Linked DNA regions of Homo sapiens. The protein of the gene in region 1 purifies or fractionates together with the protein of each later gene. This does not show direct contact. Each region holds a gene or a part of one and is shown in the gene's direction. Other genes may lie near its edges. The genes, in order: RETREG1, RTN1 and RTN3.

Evidence for each region.
Region 2: the proteins of RETREG1 (region 1) and RTN1 purify together in Homo sapiens (affinity purification with mass spectrometry, with the first as the bait; one study listed by BioGRID). This does not show direct contact.
Region 3: the proteins of RETREG1 (region 1) and RTN3 purify together in Homo sapiens (affinity purification with mass spectrometry, with the first as the bait; one study listed by BioGRID). This does not show direct contact.

What each region holds. Positions count from the first base shown.
Region 1 is NC_000005.10:16,477,378-16,481,034, reverse strand, and holds part of RETREG1 (reticulophagy regulator 1), read left to right. Parts: coding exon 1-26; intron 27-2,047; coding exon 2,048-2,185; intron 2,186-2,936; coding exon 2,937-3,001; intron 3,002-3,246; coding exon 3,247-3,373; intron 3,374-3,657. UniProt on the Homo sapiens protein: Endoplasmic reticulum (ER)-anchored autophagy regulator which mediates ER delivery into lysosomes through sequestration into autophagosomes.
Region 2 is NC_000014.9:59,741,631-59,745,287, reverse strand, and holds part of RTN1 (reticulon-1), read left to right. Parts: intron 1-3,657. UniProt on the Homo sapiens protein: Inhibits amyloid precursor protein processing, probably by blocking BACE1 activity.
Region 3 is NC_000011.10:63,715,854-63,719,510, forward strand, and holds part of RTN3 (reticulon-3), read left to right. Parts: intron 1-2,848; coding exon 2,849-3,657. UniProt on the Homo sapiens protein: May be involved in membrane trafficking in the early secretory pathway. Inhibits BACE1 activity and amyloid precursor protein processing. May induce caspase-8 cascade and apoptosis.

The sequences.
Region 1 (3,657 bases):
TGGGGTTATACTCAGCTATCTACTGTGTAAGTATAGTAGAACATATGGCTAAGTGTTGTGATGCATATGGTATCACCTTACGGTCAACAGACCTGTAGTTTGAAGAGGGGGGATGAGTTCTTAACTATAATACAAGTTGATTATTCTTTAATCTCCTGCTGTACAAAGTTTCTCCATTTTCCTAGAGACATGTCTCTATTTTAAAATTGGAAGAATAGCTGCAAAAGGCAGAATTATAAGTGAATAATTTTATGTTAAATTTTGTCAGTAAAAGTATACATAAAGCTGTATGCCCCACCTCCCAAAAACACACCAACACCTTTGCCTTCGTGCGTGTTCTTTGGCTCAAAAAAATAATTAAAACCACAATGAAATACCATTGCATCCCTACCAGAATGGCTAAAATTAAAAATACTGACCACATCAAGTATTAGGAGGGATGCAGAGCAAGTGGAATTCTCACATACTGTTGCGGGGTAGGTAGAATGTTAAAATCACTTTGGATAACAGTTTGGCAGTTTCTTAAAAACTACTACATGACAAAGCTATCCCACAACTAGGTACTTACCCAAAAGAAATGAAAGTACAAAGACATAAATGTTCATAACAGATTTATATGTAGTAGCCAAAAGCAGAATATAATCCATACATCCATCAATTGGAGGAATGGGTAAGCAAACTGTGGTATATCCATATAATGGATTACTACTTAGCACTAAAAATGGATACATACAACACTAAAGATAAATCTCAAAATAATTAGACTGAGTAGACAAAACCAGATGAAAAAGTGTGATTCCATTTATATATTATTCCAGAAAATTCAAACAATCTTTAGTGACAAAGCAGGTCAGTGGTTGCCTGGGGATGAGGTGGGTGGGGGCAGGGAGAAGAGGCAGGAGACTGGAAGGAAGGTTGAATAAAACCATGAGAAAACTTCATGTCTACTGGTAGACATGTTCACTATCTTGATTATGGTGATGGCTTCTTAGTTGTATGCATATGTCAAAATTTATCAAATTGTACACTTTAAATACATGTATTTTATTATACATCAATGACCACCCAAAAATGTTATTAAAAAGTATGGATTTTCTTCACCTGAAAACTATGATCTGGCACTGCTACCTTTCGATGGGGCAGGCACTCTCCACTTAACATACCCCCATATTTTCCAATTTTTCTTACAATGGACTTTAAAATTTACATACAATTTCTTGGCCTCTAGAGACATTTGAGTTTGTAGCTCTTATTTTAAAATATAATACGGGACACTTCCTAAAACGAACAAAGAAATAAATATTGGGAATACAATACTTAGAGTGTGGCAATCTTTGCTTCTTTTTGTATTCTTAATGCATAATGCAAATGGCAAATGGTCAGAGCTCAAATCCATTCTCCCCAAAAGAAGTCATATATAACATCAGCCTCATGATGACATTGTTTAGGAGGTAAAGGAGAAGAGGACTGGGGAATGAAAGAATAATTTGGGCAAGGCATTATTCAGATGGTTTGCATTGATTTCATTTATGCTTCACAACAACCCCAAGAAATAATGTTACTATCCTAATATTATTGATGAGAGGCTAATAACTTTCCCATGGTGAAATGGCATTGAATAAACACAGTTAAACCAGGACTGTTGTCTGGAAGGCATGTAATTTTTCTATAAATTTTGAGAATAAAAGGATTGAAAGGAGGGAGTTGATCTAACTGCACCTGGAAACAATGACTGTGAGCATTGTGTAAGTGTGGGTATGCATGTGTGTGTTTGTGGGTGGTGGTAGAAAATGTTTACCTTACAGAAAAAGAATAGAAATTATAAACTTGTGTAAGTGTGGGATGCATGTGTGTGTTTGTGGGTGGTGGCAGAAAATGTTTACCTTACAGAAAAAGAATAGAAATTATAAACTTATTTCACAATGGCATTTCCCTTAAAAAAACTTAAGTTTTTCAGTAAAGAAATGTAGTATTTTGTGAAATACTGAAATGTACGTAGCCTTTTGAAAGGAAAGGCATTTTACCTCTGCTCTCTTTCTTCTTTCAGTACTGTGTGCATTTTTGTGTCCATTGTTTAAATGTAATGATATTGGACAAAAAATTTACAGCAAAATTAAGTCAGTTCTGCTGAAACTGGATTTTGGAATTGGAGAATATATTAATCAGAAGAAACGTGAGAGATCTGGTAGGTAAAGTTTATATTTTAGATTCTATGCATGAAATGAGACATTAGCGAGCTATTTTTAGGAAATTCTTTAATACATTTGAGGATACTTTTAGCTTTTTACTAAATATTATTATAGAAGCTAATCTCCCTCAAAGTTATATATATCCTTTTCCTATTTGGGCTTTCCTTCTTTTCTCAAATATACAATTAAATAAATTGACTTTTTAATCCACAGTGTCAGGGGAGAAAGAAAAGGCTTCAACACTCTTTATTGTGCTACTTATGATTTACTTAGTTTTATTTTGGGTTGGACTATCACAAAGAAAAAGAAAATACAGGAAAAGCCAATATAATCATCTCTTACTTTTTAACTTGGCTTATGACCTTATAGGTTCTCAAACTAGAATGTATCGGAGTCACGTGGAGGGCTTATTAAAGGACAGATTGCTAGGCCCCAGCCCAGAGTTTCTGATTCAGTAGGTCTAGGGTAGGGCCTGAGAATCTGCATTTCTAAAAAGTTCCCAGGGAGGATGCTTTTGCTGTTTCAGGGACAATATTAAGAGAGCCACTAATGTGGATCATTTCCTTTGCAAATATGTGAAGCTTGTTATGTGCAAACATTTAATTATATTTGTAGTTAAGAATATGAGAAATATATATTTGTATTTGGAGAATATGAGAAATGTGGGGTAAGAATACATAATGAAATAAATGCACTATGTCTGAGTTGGCTAGGAAACTGAAAGCTTCCAAATTTTTTCCTCAACAGAAGCAGACAAAGAAAAAAGTCACAAAGATGACAGTGAATTAGACTTTTCAGCTCTTTGTCCTAAGGTATTTTTTGTTTAGTTTTCAATTTGTTCCTGTGTGGTTTGACTGTAAATGCATGTATGCATACAAAGCTGAATGATCTTCCTAATAAACTCCTCATATTTCTGTAAGATGACTGAATGATTTCAAAATAAAAATATCCATTTGGTTTTTATTACTCTGTCATTTTGGGGGTTCATATGGATTTTTCAAAATATTCCCTTCAGCAGTTTAAAATGTGCCGCTGGTATTTATTTATATTAACACAGATTAGCCTCACGGTTGCTGCCAAAGAGTTATCTGTGTCTGACACAGACGTCTCAGAGGTATCCTGGACTGATAATGGGACCTTCAACCTTTCAGAAGGATACACTCCACAGACAGACACTTCTGATGGTATGCTAATATTTCTGGAGACATTTATTTTTATGAGTGCATACAAAACTATTGAACTTCTGTCAAATACTGAATGGGTAAATAACATGTTACCACCATATCTACACAGTAGAATATTACTTGGCTATAAAAATGAAGTCCTGATACTTGCTACAACATGGATGAACCTTGAAAACATGCTAAGAAGCCAGACACAAAATGCCACATACTGTGTAATTCCATTTATATGAAATGCCTAGAATAAGCAGGTCCATATAAAGGGAAATTAAGTTAGTGGCTGCTAT
Region 2 (3,657 bases), on another chromosome or scaffold:
TAATGTATAAGAAACAAAATTTATTTCTTAACAGTTCTGAAAGCTGGGAAGTCCCAGGTCAAAGGGGCGCATCTGGTAAAAGCTTTCTGGCTTGCTAGTGGGGACTCTCTGAAGGGTCCCAAGTGGGTACAGGGTATAATATGGTGAGGGGGCTGAACATGCTAACATGCTATGCTCAAGTCTCTCTTATTCTTCATATAAAGCCACAAGTCACATTTCCATGATAATCCATTAATCCGTTAACTCTTTAATCCATTAATCCATGAGTGGGATAATCCACTCATGAAGGCAGAGCCTTCATCGTTCAATATTTCGTAGTCCATAGCCTCTCAAAGGCTCCACCTCTCAATACTGCCACATTGGGTATTAAGATTAAACATGAGTTTTGGAAGGGACATTCAAACTATAGCACAGGTCTCTTGGAGACATTATGAGGAGAGCACACTGGCTGTTCTCTGTAGACTGCCTGAAGCACCTTGGCCGGGGCATTTAACATTCCTGTCCCTAGCTCTAAGTCTGTACACTTAAAGGGAAGGAAAAGGTGGACTTCTGGATCTTTTAGGGATGGCACAGACAGGAAGAGGAAACCTAAGCAAAGCAAACTCCTCCCTTCCCCTTTCAATCTCAACACTGTCATTTTATATCTCTAGTTTATTGAAGTTCTGCATATAATTTTATTTTTGAAACCAAAAGATGTACTTCATTAAAATTTTTAAAGTTTAGACTTCATTAGGCTATGGTCTTTTTTAACTTGAACATTCTCTTTCTGTGACTGAAGGCAGGATACTAAACAGCACTCATGCGTATTCTGTCAAACACAAAGGGAGCCTCTTATATCCCTGGCTAAAGGCCAGAGAGGCAGCAGGAAACTCCTCACCCCACCCTGTGCCACTCTCTTCTCTCCAGCCTTTGCATCTCCACCTCTCTCAAATGTCCATGAGGCATCGAGATGAAGAGGACAGTGAGAGGTCCTCAAACCTTCCCCTGCCCCTGGTGACTGGCATTCTACCATATCCCAAAGAGCTTTGGTATGCACCTCAGGTGAAAGAGCTTCTAGTAAACTCTGAAAATGGAAGCAAAGCCTGTAGAGGAGGAGCGATTGCTCTAAACCCTGATGGTATAGTACAAATCCAAGTGTTGGAATAGAACAGAATTAATGAAAGTTCCTCCTATCTTCTTTCCCTATAGATTTTAGCATTAATTCCTTCTCCCCAAAGTTCCTTCAGACTCATTCAACCATAGAACTCCAAGGGTCTTAAAGATTCACTGCGCCAGGTCCCTGATTTTCAAATTTACTCATTCACGCAACAAACACTTTCTACATACTTTCTTTTGGTTGGGTACTCTATGAGGCACGACTGATGGGGAATTAACGAAAAATAAAAAACAAACAAAAACCAGTCCCTGCCTCCAGGGGACCAGACGACCAAGGAAGCAGTCCCAATCCAGTGTGCTTGGTGTCCTGAGAAAGGGAATTGTACGGTGCTGACGAGCCCTGGAGTCCAGCAGCTCCCCAGGTGAACTGGGACCACAGGTGACTCTCAGAGGAACAGGGGAAACAAAGAGGTGAAGGGAAGGGTGCCCTTCCAGTCTGAGGAGCTGCATGGACATGGAGTTGTGAGGGCCCAGTGAACTTCACTTAAGATGTAAATTGAGATTTGGGTAGTAATGACAAATCAGAAAACCAAGGCTCCAGGTGGATTAGATACGTCTTGCCCCTGCCTAAAACATGAGGTCAGAACATATCCGAGTTTCCAAGCTTCCTTGTACTCTTTCTGGCAATGCATAGTAAAACTCTTTTATTATTTCCTGCCGTAAAGATACTTGGTGTTCTGAAGATGTAAGTTAATATAGTCAAGCTGTGTTTTACAGAGCTCCCGGGTTGTCCAGTAGTCAGTCCACAAGAACTTCAGCCAGTCCTCAGGAATAGTGAAATGCCCTAGCAAGTATAGGTCTACTTACACGGCACATGCTTCATGTAAAAATTACAGTTTGCAAAGACTTGACAAAGGGTCCATTAATTTTTAGGGAATTTCCATTTTTAAGTAGCCATGGCCCAATTGGGTTCTGGAGAAGGTTCAAGAGAAAACAAAGGCAGATCTGGCTCACATGATATTGGAGTTTTACGATGTTGGGTTGCCCACTTGACAGTATGGGGTTAGGACAATGATTGTCTCTGCAGCTGCAATCAAATAAACATTCTAAGCAAGGCATATTCAGGAAAGAGAAAATGGCCCATTACACATTCTCTCCTATGTTCAGCTCCTCTCTCCATATACATCCCACATCAAAATACCAGAGTCATATGACAACAGATAAGAATGAAATTAACAGGAAGAATCAGCTTCTCATTGAAGCCTTTCTCCCTGCCCTTTTTATCCTGCGAGGTTTCTGACCCCCTTCCCATCTTCTTATGACCCCTGGCACCATGTGACACTGTGCCCATAGACAGTAGAGGATATGGACTTTATTACATCTGTTGAGTCTTGGGTCACTCTGCCATTTCCAGTGACAACAGATTGAAAACAAAAATTGAGAACTGCACATAATTCTACATAGAAACTGAGGAAAAAGAAAGCATGTTAAGCAAAAAAGGGTCCAGTTTATCATTGTTTAATAAATAAGGAAATCATCAAATCTGGAGAATAACTGAAGAGAAATTCTAATTTGGGTTAGCTTTAGCCACAGATGCTGATGTTTAAGCAAGGTGTCTAATATATTTATATTTCTCCCAATTCCAATAGATTATTCCATTTTGTAACGTTCTCCAACATACTTACCTATTTTTACTACATAATATACACTGAGGTGGAGAGGTGAGAATTGTTATAGCTGAAATACTGGAAGTCTCTTTTAAGCCAAGATCAGTCATGAAAAAAGTGAAGCAATTTAGGAAAACATAATAAATGCCCTGATGCCCCAGACATTGACCAGGAGCACCATGTTGTTTCTGACACAAACACCAAGAGGGATATTATGATGGTCCTGGGTGTTATGTGAGCTATTAGCCTCAAAAAGGACAATAATCAGGAAGTCATCCTTAAAACACCCCAGTTTCCCTCAAGAAGAAATGAGCAATTAAAAGTAAATCAACTTAAATTTGAAAACTACCATTGCTATTTCCTTGCATTGATGGGATCTATGATTCTCCTACCCATTTTTAAAATTCATTCTTTTGTTCAAAAAATATTTAGAGTGACTTCTATACATCAGACATGCACTGGCCACTGAGACCTTGTAGTAAATAAGATGTACAAGGTCCCTGCCCTTGCACAGCTTACCTGCTAGTCAGAGGAAACAGGCAATAAAAAACAAACCCATAAATAAACAGTGTAATTTTATAGTGTGAGCACTAGAAAGAGTGATAGAGGGTTGGGTGTGAGGGGTCCAAGGACTGCCCCTCTGAGGAGATGACACATGAACTGAAATCTGAATGAGCAGAAGGAGCCCACAGTTCAGAGAGAAGCTAGGAGGGACCTCAGGTGTGGGGGAATAGCAAATGCACAGGGCCTGAGTCTGTATTATATGAGAACTGAAAGGGGGTTGGTGACACAGGGGAGGAAGAGGGAAGTGGGGCAGAGAACACCATTGGACAGATAGGCAGGGCCGAGATCGTGGGGAAGGAGTTTGGATTTTGTTCCAAATGTAATTGGAAGC
Region 3 (3,657 bases), on another chromosome or scaffold:
GAATATTTCTGATTTAAATGTAATCTGTAGTACTTCACACTTCAGATTTTTGAACCTTTTAACCTACAATACTGGGCTTCATTTCTGTTATGCCCTAATCTAGTCATGCTGAATATCCATACTGTATAATGGTAGATGCAAACCATGTTTACTAAATTAGAACTACATATGAATTACAGTTTACTTCAAGTGTTTTGTTTTGGTAATATAGCTTTGCCACCAAGCTTTTACAGTTTTCCTTGAATGTACAAAGACTTTTTATTCTAATAACCAGATTACAGTTATACTATTTCTAAAGCTCAGCTCTTATTACATCAAGTTTCAGTGATGTGTTGAAGTAGGGGAACTTTATATGGCATTTCAAAACATTTTCATAATACTGGAATTTTATTTATTGTAAAATATTTTTGTCTTTAATAAAATAATTTTGAATGAAGTCATAATTTTGCTTTTATCTGGTATTTGGATGTTTACATGAAAAAGGGAACATAAGCTGAATAAAGGTAATCCCAAAAGAACTTCTCTGTCACATTTTCCCAGTTACTCATTCATGCTCAAGGCATTGCTGTCCTGAGCCTACTTAGGTCTCAGCTGACCAAGCTGAATCTTTGATTCACTTATTTGGGGCTATTTATTTAAGACCCACTTTGTCCCAGCTCCAAAGATACAACAGTATGCAAGAAAGACAGCGCCCAGGGTGGGCGTGGTGGCTCATGCCTATAATCCCAGCACTTCAGGAGGCCGAGGTGGGCAGGTTGCTTGAGCCCAGTAGTTTGAGACCAACCTGGCAATGTAGTGAGGCACCAGGTCTGTAGAAAGTTTAAAAATCAGGCCAGGCGCGGTGGCTCATGCGTGTATTCCCAGCTCTTTGGGAGGCCGAGGCAGGCGGATCACGGGGTCAGGAGATCGAGACCATTCTGGCTAACACGGTGAAACCCCGTCTCTACTAAAAATACAAAAATAAAATTAGCCAGGCGTGGCGGCGGGTGCCTGTAGTCCCAACTGCTTGGGAGACTGAGGCAGGAGAATGGCGCGAACCCGGGAGGCGGAGCTTGCAGTGAGCAGAGATCGCGCCACTACACTCCAGCCTGGGCGACAGAGCAAGACTCCGTCTCAAAAAAAAAACAAAAAAAAAAAAAAAAGAAAAGAAAGTTTAAAAATTAGCCAGGTGTGGTGGCATGTGCCTGTGGTCCCAGCTACTTGGGAGGCTGAGGTGGGAGGATAGCTTGAGGCCAGGAGGTCAAGGCTGCAGTGAGCCACAATTGTACCACTGGCACTCCAGCCTGGAGGACAGAGGGAGACCCTCTCTCAAATACAAACAAACAAATAAATGAAGTAAGAAAGCACCAGCCCTTGGGATATTTGTTTTGATCCTTTTCCCCAGTAAAAATTTGTTAGAGTGGGAAGTTAGAAAACAGTGTGGTAGATTGATGGCTACTATGGTATTAACTGATAAGACTTAACGTATTACTTTGAGAAGGATATTTTCTATTTTAAAAGTAATTCTGGAGTTAACTCTGTCTTTTTTTTTTTTTTTTTTTTTTTTTTTGAGACAGTTTCACTCTTGTTGCCCAGGCTGGGGTGCGATGGCGTGACCTCAGCTCACTGCCATCAATGTCTGCCTCCTGGGTTCAAAGGATTCTCCTGCCTCAGCCTCCCGAGTAGCTGGAATTACAGGTGCCTGCCACCACGCCCGGCTAATTTTTTTGTATCTTTAGTAGAGATGAGGTTTCACCATTTTGGTCAGGCTGGTCTCGAACTCCTGACCTCAGGTGAGCCACTGCACCCAGCCAAGTTAACTCTGTCTTAACCAAAGAAATCAATTTGCACAGTACAATATTGATTTAAATGACAAGTTAGTACAAGAGATTTTGGAGGGGCCAGGCGTAGCGGCTCACACCTGTAATCCCAGCACTTTGGGAGGCCAAGGCGGGTGGATCACTTGAGGTCAGGAGTTAAGAGACCAGCCTGGCCAACATGGTGAAACCCCATCTCTTCTAAAAATACAAAAATTAGCTGGGCTTGATGGTGCCTGCCTGTAATCCCAGCTACTTGAGAGGCTGAGGCAGGAGAATGGCTTGAACCTGGGAGGTGGAGGTTGCAGTGAGCTGAGATTGCGCCATTGCACTTCAGCCTGGGCAACAAGAAAAAGACTCCGTATCAAAAAAAAAAAAAAAAGATTTTGGAGGGGGTCCACCTTTTTCAGTACCCTTTAGTTTAGAACATCACAGCTATTTATTTGTACATGGGACAGATTCTCCCTGTGGATAGAATAGAATAATTCTAGTCTCATTTTTCAGATTCAGGAAGGGCCCATTGCATCTCCTAAAAATCAAAAAAGTCTGGCCACTAGTTTTTTTCCTTTTCAGATTGTGAGACTAACAGATTTATAGAGGCAGTCTGTGCTCTGAATTGTTCAGCTTACAGATTGAAGTCTATCAACCCTTTATAGTATCAGGTTATTTGTTTTGTATAAATTATTTTGCTTTTGTTGATTAGCTCTATCAAAGAATAAAAAACCTCCCAAGATTTCTCAATCTTACCGCCCTTCTTTATGCTTTCTCTGTACAATGGAAAAGTAGACCAAAAGTATTTGTCATGAAAATTTTTTATCATTTGCAGTTTGTGGCATGATATGGCTTTTCTGTTTCACTGTTGGCAGTTTTATGCATGTCCTGTAGGATAACTTGATCGTTTTGTTACATATTTATGTGTGTATATATACATCCTGTGTGTGTATATATATATTTATGTAATTTAAAAAATAAAAAGCATGCTGCTTGGCTTGGCTAGCTAATGTGTAATTGTACCTGGTAAACAATTTTTTTCTTTGAAATTCTGATCATAGAGGGATTGAGCTCTCTTTGCTCTGATGAGCCATCTTCAGAAATTATGACTTCTTCCTTTCTTTCATCTTCTGAAATACATAACACTGGCCTTACAATACTACATGGAGAAAAAAGCCATGTGTTAGGGAGCCAGCCTATTTTAGCCAAAGAAGGAAAAGACCACTTGGATCTTCTAGATATGAAAAAGATGGAAAAGCCTCAGGGGACCAGCAACAACGTATCAGACTCTTCAGTTTCTCTTGCAGCAGGAGTTCATTGTGACCGTCCTTCTATTCCAGCCAGTTTCCCAGAGCATCCTGCTTTTCTCTCAAAGAAAATTGGTCAAGTGGAAGAGCAAATAGATAAAGAGACCAAGAACCCAAATGGGGTATCAAGTAGGGAGGCTAAAACTGCATTGGATGCTGATGACAGATTCACTTTGCTGACAGCCCAGAAACCACCTACTGAGTACTCTAAGGTAGAAGGCATTTATACATATTCTTTGTCTCCATCCAAAGTTTCAGGAGATGATGTTATTGAAAAGGATTCCCCTGAATCACCATTTGAAGTAATTATTGACAAAGCAGCATTTGACAAAGAATTTAAAGACTCATATAAGGAGAGCACAGATGATTTTGGTAGCTGGTCTGTGCACACTGATAAAGAATCATCCGAAGACATTTCAGAGACTAATGACAAGCTTTTTCCACTGAGAAATAAAGAGGCAGGACGTTACCCAATGTCTGCATTGCTCAGTAGGCAGTTTTCACACACAAATGCAGCACTGGAAGAGGTGTCCAGATGCGTGAATGATATGCATAACTTTACT